Linked DNA regions of Homo sapiens: region 1 is linked to region 2. Evidence: fine-mapped expression QTL. A gene starts in region 2. The other region holds a variant in brackets. All regions are shown on one strand. Distances are from middle to middle. Region 1 has its middle 20 kb from the start of TXN2. Region 2 holds the start of TXN2 (thioredoxin 2).

Region 1 (5,370 bases), 20 kb after region 2:
TGTGTGGGCTCTGGGCAGGGAACGGCCCAGAAAACAATGTTGGGGCCGTGTCCATGGAGGGCAGGATGCTGGCGACGGTAAGGCTGCCAGGCCTGCAGCCGCAGTTCCTCTCCGATGCCTGGAACACCAGCTGCAGGCGTGACCCTTACCCTGGCCAGGGCTGGGGTCCCCGGCTCTGCAGGAAGCCTGGGCCACTGGTTGTTCCAAGGAACCTCCCTTTCCAGCCACCTCCTGGCTGCAGGCCCCCCCAGGCCCTTCCACGGTGATAGAAGTAGGGCGGGAAGAATCTGATCTGGATTCAGATCCTGCCTGTGCCACCTGCAAGTTGTGCGACCTTGGGCAGGCTGCTTTTCCATTCTGAGGCTCTGTGTTCACGGTGGTGAAATAGGCTGGCAGTGACAGCTGGCACTTACTGAGTGTGTGCTACATGAATCCTCTCACTGAGTCTCCACCGCAACCCCAACAGCAGGGACCATTGTTACCGCCATTTTACAGACAAGGAAACTGAGGCTTGGAGGGCTTAAGTAACTTGGCATGAATGGAGTTCAGAGCTCAGATTTGAACTCCGATGTGGCCGGACACGATGGCTCACGCCTGTAATCCCAGCACTTTGGGAGGCCAAGGCAAGAGGATCGTTTGAGCCTAGGAGTTCGGGACCAACCTGGGCAACATAGCAAGACCCTGTCTTTACACAAAATTTAAAAAAAAATTAGCCTGGCATGGCGGTGTGCGCCTGTAGTCCCAGCTACTTGGGAGGGTGAGGTGGGAGGATCACTTGAGCCCAGGAGTTTGAGGCTATAGTGAGCTGTGATCTCACCACTGCACTCCAGCCTGGGTGACAGAGTGAGATCTTGTTCTAAAAAATAAAAATATAAAAAATAAATTTTATTTATTTATTTTATTGTTTTTGAGATGGAATCTTGCTCTGTTGCCCAGGCTGGAGTAGAATGGCATGATCTCTGCCCACTGCAACCTCCTTCGCCTCCTGAGTTCAAGCAGCTCTCCTGCCTCAGCCTCCCGAGTAGCTGGGATTACAGGCATTTGCCACCATGCCTGGTTAATTTTTGTATTTTTAGTAGAAACAGGGTTTCACCATGTTGGCCAGGCTGGTCTCAAACTCCTGACCTCAAATGATCCGCCCACCTCAGCGTCCCAAAGTGCTGGGATTACAGGCGTGAGCCACCGTGCCCGGCCCAAAAATAAATTTTAAAAAAGGGGAAAAGAATGAACCCCAATGTCTTTAATTTCAAATTCTCTTTGTTCTTGCTCATTAGCTATACTGCTTTCCTTTTGGGACAAGGTTTTCACCATTTTGAGCCCCAGTTGCACCATCTCCAAGTTGGGGCTCATGACAGTCCCTGCAAATGAGGTCACGGCTCAGCAGGTGGAAGCACGCTGGCACCGATTGGAAGTTCCAGAAGTGTTATCTGTGTGGCTTTCTCCTTTCCCCTACCCCCAGCCACATCTTAAACAGGAAACACCGGGCTTCCCAAGGTAAGGACCCCAGCACCATGGGAGGGGCCCGTCGCTGTACCAGGCTGAGGGCCTTACATTCAGCCCTGTGACCTGGCCCTGGTCCCTGCCACCACCTCCTCCTGCTCTGGAGCTGGCTTGGTGGTGCCTGTGTCTCAGGCAGCCCTAGGGAGTTGGAGGCAGTGACCTCACCCTTGGAGAATGCCCACTGGAATTCACCCTGAACCTGCTCCTCTGTTCTCCATGCCTCCCAGCCACTTCTGAGCGCACTCTCACGCTTACCTCTGTGGCAGCCAACGGAGCGTCTCCTGGGAGCAAGAACACTCCTGCTAGACAGCTGTTAACTACCAACTGGAGGACAAGCCAGTTCTCCACCTTCAGCCAGCTTGCTGGGTGAGCTTAGGCAAGTAGCTGTCTGTCTCTGGTCTGCCCCCTACCTCAGTGTCCCAGCAAAGAAGTCATCCAGTGTCCAGCCTCTGTGCCGATACCACCAGAGGTGCCTTCTTCGACCTAACACCTGTGGAAGGAGGGACTGATTCCATTTCATACATGTGGAGACAGAAGCCCAGAGAGGTAGTGACCGTGCCTAAGGCCACACCCTGGGAAATGGACTGAGGGTGGCTGACCCCATGCCCTGCTCCTCCTCCTCTGCCACACTGCTGCTCCCAGGAGTGTCAAAGGATCCCTCCTCTCATGCCCAGAGTAGGGACCTTGATCCGCTTTTTTTTTTTTTTAGATGGAATTTTGCTCTTTTCCCCCAGGCTGGAGTGCAGTGGCACAATCTTGGCTCACTGCAAGCTCCACCTCCTGGATTCAAGCGATTGTCCAGCCTCAGCCTCCCGAGTAGCTGGGATTACAGGTGCCCAGCTAATTTTTGTATTTTTAGTAGAGATGGGGTTTCACCATGTTGGCCAGGCTGGTCTCAAAATCCTGACCTCAGGTGATCTACCCACCTCGGCCTCCCAAAGTGCTGGGATTATGGGCACGAGCCACCGTGCCAGGTGGAGCCTCTCTTTTATCCACCTCCCCCAACCCCCACCCCACAAGGAGGCAGGAGATTCCATTTCCTCATGATCCACTCCTGAGGCGGGAATACTCTCTCCAGGCCAAACTGGC[TACCTCA/A]GCCAGCAAGCGTCTGTGCGGAGCCCCTCTGGGCCTGCTGGGTGATAGGAACTAGAGCAAGACACAGCCCCTGCCTTCCAGGAGTTCACAGCAAACACATGGACACATCTAAAGTCTAAATGCTACAGGAGAGATGACATTTACCACCATGGTGACAGAGTACAGACTGGCCGCAAGCCCTGAAAAGCAGCACATCTGCAAAAGGAGATTGTCGGGTAAAGCATGGGAAGGAGGTGATGCTTGAGAAAAGTTGTTTTTTGTTTTTGTTTTGAGACAGTCTAACTCTGTTGCACAGGCTGGAGTGCAGTGGTGTGATCTTGGCTCACTGCAACCTCCACCTCCCAGGTTCAAGCAATTCTCCTGCCTCAGCCTCCTGAATAGCTGGGATTGCAGGCACCTGCCACAAGGCCCAGCTAATTTTTGTATTTTTAGTAGAGACAGGGTTTCACCATGTTGGCCAGGCCGGTCTCAAACTCCTAACCTCAAGTGATCCACCCACTTTGGCCTTCCAAAGTGCTGGGATTACAGGTGTGAGCCACCTTGCCGGGCCAAGAAGAGTTTTGAAGAATCGACTGGGACTCGTCCTGAGAGGCAAGTGGTGGGAAGGGTATTCCAGGCAGAAGGGAGAGCGTATGCACAGCACAGAGGCAGGAAAGTCCATGGTCCATCCCAGGAGGAGGCTTTGGTGGGGCCTTGGAGTCACACAGTCCTGGCTCCAGTCACAGCCCTCTCCGTCACTAGCCAAGCCTCAGTTTCCTTCATCTCTGAAATGGGAGGACAGGACCCTCCTCATGGTTATGAGATCGTAAATGTAATGTCAGAACACAATGCAATTACGTGGTAAGCGCCCTATTAAACGCTTCTCTTATTGTGTGTTAGTAATGTGTATTAGTTTGCTAGGCCAGCCATCACAAAATATCACAGACTGGGTGGTTTAAACAACAGATGTTTATTTTTTCACAGTTCTGGGGCTGGAAGTCCAAAATCAAGGTGCTGGCAGGGTTGGTTTCTCCTGAAGCCTCTCTGCTTGGCTTGCGGGTGGCCACCTTCTTGCTGGGTCCTCACATGGATTTTCCTCTGGGCACACACATCCCCCAAGTCTCTCTCTCCTTTTTTTTGTTTTGTTTTGTTTTGAGACGGAGTCTCGCTCTGTCACCTATTACCCAGGCTGGAGCACAGTGGCACAATCTCGGCCCACTGCAACCTCTGCCTCCTGGGTTCAAGCGATTCTCCTGCCTCAGCCTCCTGAGTAGCTGGGACTACAGGCACCTGCCACTACACCTGGCTAATTTTTGTATTTTTAGTAGAGACGGGGTTTCACCATGTTGGCCAGGCTGGTCTCTAACTCCTGACCTCAGGTGATCCACCTGCCTTGGTCTCCCAAAATGCTGGGATTACAGGCATAAGCCACCATGCCCAGCCCAGTGCCAGTTTATGGAGGGGGACATGGAGGTACAGAGGGCTTTGGGTTATGACTCAAGGTCACACAGCTAGGAAGGAGCAGACAGGATTTAAACCTAGACAGTCTGACTCTGGGGTCCCTGCTCCTCTCCCCATGCCCTCTCCACCCTCCCACACACACAGCAGGAGCTCCCTGCACTCCACAAACACCCTTTTGCATGTCACTCAGCTCCGGTCAAACTGTTAACTTCTCCCCCATTGTCGGATACTAAGGAATTTTTCAGTTAATATTTTTCCATTATAAATGAGGTTGGAACAAACCTGTTTGAACATAAGAGCTTATTTCTTCTTTTGGATTTTATACAAGTGGGATTTCCAGGGCAAAGGGAGCATTTTATTGTCCCCGAGAGCGGGGAAGGAGTGAAACCCGAGCTGGGCCCCGCCTGCACTGCCCACCTGCCGGTTTACTTTGTGGGAGGGGAGGCTCGGCAGTAGGGATGTCCTGAGACTTGGCTCGGCACTGCCCCACCTCCAGCCACCTCTTTGTCTCTGCCGCCTCTGCCTTAGAAAGTTCCGGGCCCCAGCCAGGCACGGTGGCTCACGCCTGTAATCCCAGCACTTTGGGAGGCCGAGGTGAGCAGATCACGAGGTCAGGAGATGGAGACCATCCTGGCTAACACGGTGAAACCCCATCTCTACTAAAAATACAAAAAATTAGCCAGGCGTGGTGGCGGGAGGCTGAGGCAGGAGAATGGCGTGAACCCGGGAGGCGGAGCTTGCAGTAAGCCTAGATCGCGCCACTGTACTCCAGCCTGGGTGACAGAGCAAGACTCTGTCTCCCCAAAAAATCCAAAACAAAACAAAATAAGACAAAGAAAGTTCCAGGCCCCAAATCCTGGTTTTTCTGAGATTCTGAGTTCAAAATAATGGTTCCTATAAGGATATGGTCATTTTTTATTTTATTTTTGAGATGGAGTCTCACTCTGTTACCCAGGCTGGAGTGCAGTGGCAGGATCTCAGCTCACTGCAACCTCCACCTCCCAGGTTCATGTGATTCCCCTACCTCTCAGCCTCCTGAGTAGCTGGGATTACAGGCACCTGCCACCACGCCCGGCTAATTTTTGTATTTTTAGTAGACACAGGGTTTCACCATGTTGGTCAGGCTGGTCTGGAACTCCTGACCTCAGGTGATCCTCCCACCTCGGCCTCCCAAAGTACTGGGATTATAGGTGTGAGCCACTGCGCCCAGCCTGGTTTCCCATATGATTTCCCCTATTAGTAGTTCCCATCTCGAAGGGTCCCTATGATGTTGAGATAGGGAAGGAAGCTAGCAAGTTTGGAGCAGGAGAGGGAAATGGAAGCCCAGAGAGGGCA
Region 2 (5,370 bases):
TCAGGCTTTCCCTGCAGGAGTCATCAGGCAGCAATGATGTGGATTCTGTCTCTACTGCAACCCTCAGCCCAGCTATGAGAAAGGCATTCTTCCCATTGCTCAGATGAGAAGCCTGAGGCCGATCAGGGTGAAGTGACTATGGCATAAGGACAAACAGGACTGGTCCGCCTGTGAAATTCAGAATGTGAATTAGGCAGGAAAATTGGCTCTCTAGAAAATACTGTGGAAGTGCTGAATAGGATTGATAGGTGGCTGTGGAAAAGAAAGTGCTAGAGACACAGAAAACCGATACAAAAATGGGCAGGGCGGCCAGGCGCGGTGGCTCACGCCTGTTATCCCAGCACTTTGGGAAGCCGAGGCGAGCGATAACTTAAGGTCAGGAGTTCGAGACCAGCCTGGCCAACATGGTGAAATATAAAATTTCTGTACCAAAAATATAAAAAATTAGCCAGGTGTGGTGGTGCTCGCCTGTAATCCCAAGTACTTGGGGGGCTGAGGCAGGAGAATCCCTTGAACCCTGGAGGTGGAGGTTGCGGTGAGCCAAGATCATGCCACTGCACTCCAGCCTAGCTACAGAGCAAGACTCCGTCTCAAAAAAAAAAAAAAAAAGGCTGGGTGCAGTGGCTCACGCCTGTAATTCCAGCACTTTGGGAGGCCCAGGTGGGCAGATCATGAGGTCAATAGATCGAGACCATCCTAGCCAACATGGTGAAACTCCGTCTCTACTAAAAATATAAAAATTAGCTAGGCGTGGTGAGGCACGCCTGTAGTCCCAGCTACTGGGGAGGCAGAGGGAGAAGAATCCCTTGAACCCAGGAGGCAGAGGTTGCAGTGAGCCGAGATCGCGCCACTGCACTCCAGCCTGGGCAACAAGAGCGAGACTCTGTCTCAAAAAAAAAAAAAAAAAAAAAAAAAACTTTGATCAACAATTTGGAAACTGCCTGTTCTTTTAAAAACGCTCTTTCAGCTGCTGCTAATCCGAGTGTATATTCAGGACAACTTGAATCTCTGCTCCGAGTTGCAGTCTTCGAACTTGACCCAAAAAAACTCCCTGCTTAAATTAGGCTCGCCTCAGTTTTCATTTGTTTTCCTTTAGGCGGACACAGACGAGGGCCACTTAAAGGATGGCCCCTAAACTCCCGGTTGAGTTCTTTTACATATAAAGGGCATCATGCCTTTGAGGAGCTTAGCTTTACATATTAAATGGAGAAACAGAACCTGTCAACATCTGTAGGAAGTGGACAGCGCCAGTTATAAACAGGAGGCCAGGCAAGGTGGCTCACGCCTGTAATCCCAGCACTTTGGGAGGCTGAAGCGGGCGGATCACTTGAGCTCAGGAGTTCCAGACCAGCCTGGCCAACATGGCGAAACTCCGTCTCTACTAAAAATACAAAAATCAGCCCGGCGTGGTGGCGCGCGCCTGTAATCCCAGCTACCTGGGAGGCTGAGGCAGGAAAATCACTTGAACCCGGGATTTGGATGTTGCAGTGAGCGGAGATCACGCCACTGCACTGTAGCCTGGGAGACAGAGCGAGACTCTGTCATTAATAAATAAATATATGTAAATAAAATAAAGCAACAAGAGTTTGCAAAATCCAAAACCACGGGGACTTCTCAACTGCCTTTTCTCCCTTAAGTACCCTCCATTGCTACCCCTGCTCCATCACCTCCTCTTCCGGTCCCTCCTCTAGGGCCCGCCCACCCCTTCCGTTTCCGCCCCGCCCCGCCCCCGCCTTCGCCCAGACCAGGGCCCGCCCGCCTCTTCCAATCCGTTCCCCGACGGCCTGCCCATTGCTTCCGGTCCGTAGCTGAGGCCCCGCCCCTTCAACTGTGCCTCAGCCCGCCATTCCCATTGGCGGAAAATCCCAGACGCCCCTCAAATTGGAGAGGGACAGATGGGCGCTGTGGCTCACGCCCGTAATCACAACCCTCTGAGAAGCCGAGGCGGGCGGATCACGAGGTCAAAAGATCGAGACCGTCCTGGCCAACGTGGTGAAACCCCGTCTCTACTAAAAATAAAAAAATTAGCTGGGCGTGGTGGCGCGCGCCTCTAGTCGGGAGGCTGAGGCAGGAGAATCGCTTGAACCCGGAAGGCGGAGGTTGCAGTGAGCCGAGATCGCGCCACTGCACCCCAGCCTGGCAACAGAGCGAGACTCTGGCTCAAAAAAAAAAAAAAAAAAAAAAAAAATTGGAGAGGGACGCTCTTCCGCCTGCCTGTACCCGGAAGTGACGTTATGTACGTCCCCCCCCGAGGAAGTGACGACAGGCGTGCCCTTGACAGGCAGGGAGGGCTAGGCTGTGCATCCCTCCGCTCGCATTGCAGGGAGGTAGGAGCCCTGTGGGGGTGGCTCGAGGTGGTGTCGCGGCTGAGGCATGCCGCGAGCGCGTTCCTGCGCAGGCTGGCGGCCGGGCGGGCGGGGGGATCTAGCTCGCCGGAGAGCCAGGGTCCCTGGTGATGTCCGATTTTTCCCAGTTCCCTCCACACATGTCCCTTCTTTATTGGTTCCCTCCAGTACATGTCTCTTCGTTTTTGGTTCCTCTCACACTCTTAGTTCCTCCTTGAATTGTTGCGTTTCATCTTTTCAGACGACCCTGGGTTCCAGTGTTGGCTGTCATTTAATAGCGGGGTTACTTTGGGCATGTCACTTAACTTACTTGAGCCTCGTATTCCTTCCCTTACTCGCAGTGTGGGCAGTACAATAGCAACTTCCTGGAAGTTGCTGTAGGAAGACCAATAATGTGTGTAAGGTACTTGGTCCTTACATACATTATTAAATCTGTTGGTTTCTTCCTCCCATTCTTCCGTTATAATCTAAATCCCGATTTCTTTTTGGTTGTGAAGCCAGTTTTCCTGTCCTTCTGGTTTGCCTAGCTGTTCCTTCCCTTTGATTCTCATTGCTTCCTCACTTCCACGCTACAAATCTTACATATGATTTCCTTGCATTTTGCTTCCAACTCTGCCTCTTCCTGAGCCCTGAGTACTCCCCAAATCTTTTTCTAGTGTGTCGACTTCCTTTTGTGTGCCCCAGTTCTTCTGCCTCTTTCCCTCACAGATGGCTCAGCGACTTCTTCTGAGGAGGTTCCTGGCCTCTGTCATCTCCAGGAAGCCCTCTCAGGGTCAGTGGCCACCCCTCACTTCCAGAGCCCTGCAGACCCCACAATGCAGTCCTGGTGGCCTGACTGTAACACCCAACCCAGCCCGGACAATATACACCACGAGGATCTCCTTGACAACCTTTAATATCCAGGATGGACCTGACTTTCAAGACCGAGTGGTCAACAGTGAGACACCAGTGGTTGTGGATTTCCACGCACAGTGAGTATTGGGGGTCCACAGAAGACTAGGGTCCTACTTGTTCAAGTATTTATTGAATGCCTGCTGTGTCCCACGGCCATGTTCTATGCTGCTCATATGTAGACTCAATATACAGACTGGTCAGGCCCAGTCCCTGCCCTCAAGGGGAATGCAGTCTGGTGGAAGACAGACAAGTGAACAGTCTGCAAAGCTGACTGTTAGTGCTGGGAAACACATGTTCTGTTTCTCAATCCCCAGAAAGCTCAGCGTCATCTTTAGCATGGACCAGAGTTGGAAAAATATGACTGTCACCTTGCTTTTGGTGTATACCAGTTCCTGGCCCTGCAGATAAGCTGATGTTAACATCCTGCCATGAAAACCGCAAGAAGGGCTGGCAAAAAGTTATCAGTGTCGGCCGGGTGCGGTGGCTCATGCCTGTAATCCCAGCACTTTGGGAGGCCAAGGCGGGCAGATCACCTGAGGTCAGGAGTTCAAGACCAGCCTGGCCAACATGGTGATACCCTGTCTCTATTAAAAATACAAAATTAGCTAGGCGTGGTGGTGTGTGCCTGTAATCCCAGCTACTCGGGAGGCTGAGGCAGGAGAATCACTTGAACCTAAGAGGTAGTGTTTGTAGTGAGCTGAAGATCGCGCCATTACACTCCAGCCTGGGCAAAAAGAGTGAAATTCCATCTCAAAAAAAAAAAAAAAAAGTTATCGGTGTCACTACCGTGGTGCCCAAGCATACAGGGCATAGGAAGGAGTTTCCTTTCAGTGCTATCTGAGTTTGCTTTAGAGATATTTAAGTCCCTCTGGCCTTCTGAATTTTAGCCTGGGCTTTTTCATTTCTAGATCTTTGGGGCCTGGCTAGACACCCAACTACACAAAAGCTGGACAAAGCCCTCTGAATGAGGCATCCTGGGAGAAACCAGTGTAGCATAAGTTAAAAATTCAGGGGCCTTCAGGTCGGACGCAGTGGCTCACACCTGTAATCCCAGCACTTTCAGAGGCCGAGGCAGGTGGATTACCTGAGGTCAGGAGTTTGAGACCTGCCCAGCCAACATAGTGAAACCCCATCTCTACCAAAAATACAAAAATTAATCGGGCGTGGTGGCGGGCACCTGTAATCCCAGCTACCCAAGAGGCTGAGGCAGGAGAATCGCTTGAACCTGGGAGGTGGAGGTTGCAGTGAGCTGAGATCGCGCCATTGCACTCCAGCCTGGGTGACAGAGGGAAACTCCATCTCAAAAAAAAAAAAAAAGAAAAAGAAATTGAAGGGCCTTCTGGTCAGGTCTCTGACAGATTGTTTCGCTGGCTTTCCAGTTGTTTCTCTGACTCACCCTGTGGCCTTGGGCAGGCCACTTGATATCTTTGTGCTCCCTTTCTTCACTTGTAATAGGAGATAAGGTCTTGCACACTGGGTTTTTCAGTGTTATGAGTTGTTTTTGTTTTTCTTCTTTTAGAGACAAGGTCTCACTCTGTCACCCAGGCTAGAATGTAGAGTGCAGTGGTGCGATCACGGCTCACTGCAGTCTCTACCTCCTGATCTCAAGCAATCCTCCCACCTTGGCCTCCCAAAGTGCTAGGATTACAGGCATGAACCACTGCGCCAGGCCTGAGGGTTTTTTTTCCTTTTTTGTTTTTGAGACAGAGTCTCATTCTGTCACCCAGGCTGGACTGCAGTGGTTCAGTCAGCTCACTGCAACCTCCACCTCCCGAGTTAAAACAATTTTCCTGCCTCAGCCTCCCAAGTAGTTGGGACTACCACCCAGATAATTTTTTTGTATTTTTAGTAGAGACGGGGTTTCACCATATTGGCCAGGCTAGTCTCTCAAACTCCTGACCACAGGTGATTCTCTCCCGCCTTGGCCTCCCAGAGTGCTAGGATTACAGGTGTGAGCCATTATGCCCGGCCTATTTTTCAGCATTTAAAACCGTCAGGCCTGGCTGGGTGCGGTGTGCACCACCACACCTGCTACTCAGGAGGCTGAGGCAGGAGAATTGCTTGAACCCGGGAGGCGGAAGTTGCAGTGAGCCGAGATCGCGCCATTGCACTCCAGCCTGGGCAACAGAGT

Evidence for each region. PIP is the estimated chance that this variant, and not a neighbour inherited with it, causes the effect.
Region 1: its variant is the best candidate, but not a certain one, in a credible set for the expression of TXN2 in blood mononuclear cells (TOPMed, PIP 0.87).

What each region holds. Positions count from the first base shown.
Region 1 is chr22:36,458,625-36,463,994 of GRCh38, reverse strand. No RefSeq gene overlaps it. Among named protein-coding and RNA genes, the nearest start is that of TXN2, 20 kb to the left of the region's middle. RefSeq lists an enhancer at 2,013-2,545. The variant TACCTCA/A (reference allele first, on the strand shown) is at 2,590.
Region 2 is chr22:36,478,521-36,483,890 of GRCh38, reverse strand. TXN2 (thioredoxin 2) reads left to right here and starts at 2,251. Exons shown (of 4, transcript NM_012473.4): 1 at 2,251-2,327; 2 at 3,054-3,316. The coding sequence starts at 3,054. RefSeq lists an enhancer at 875-1,821.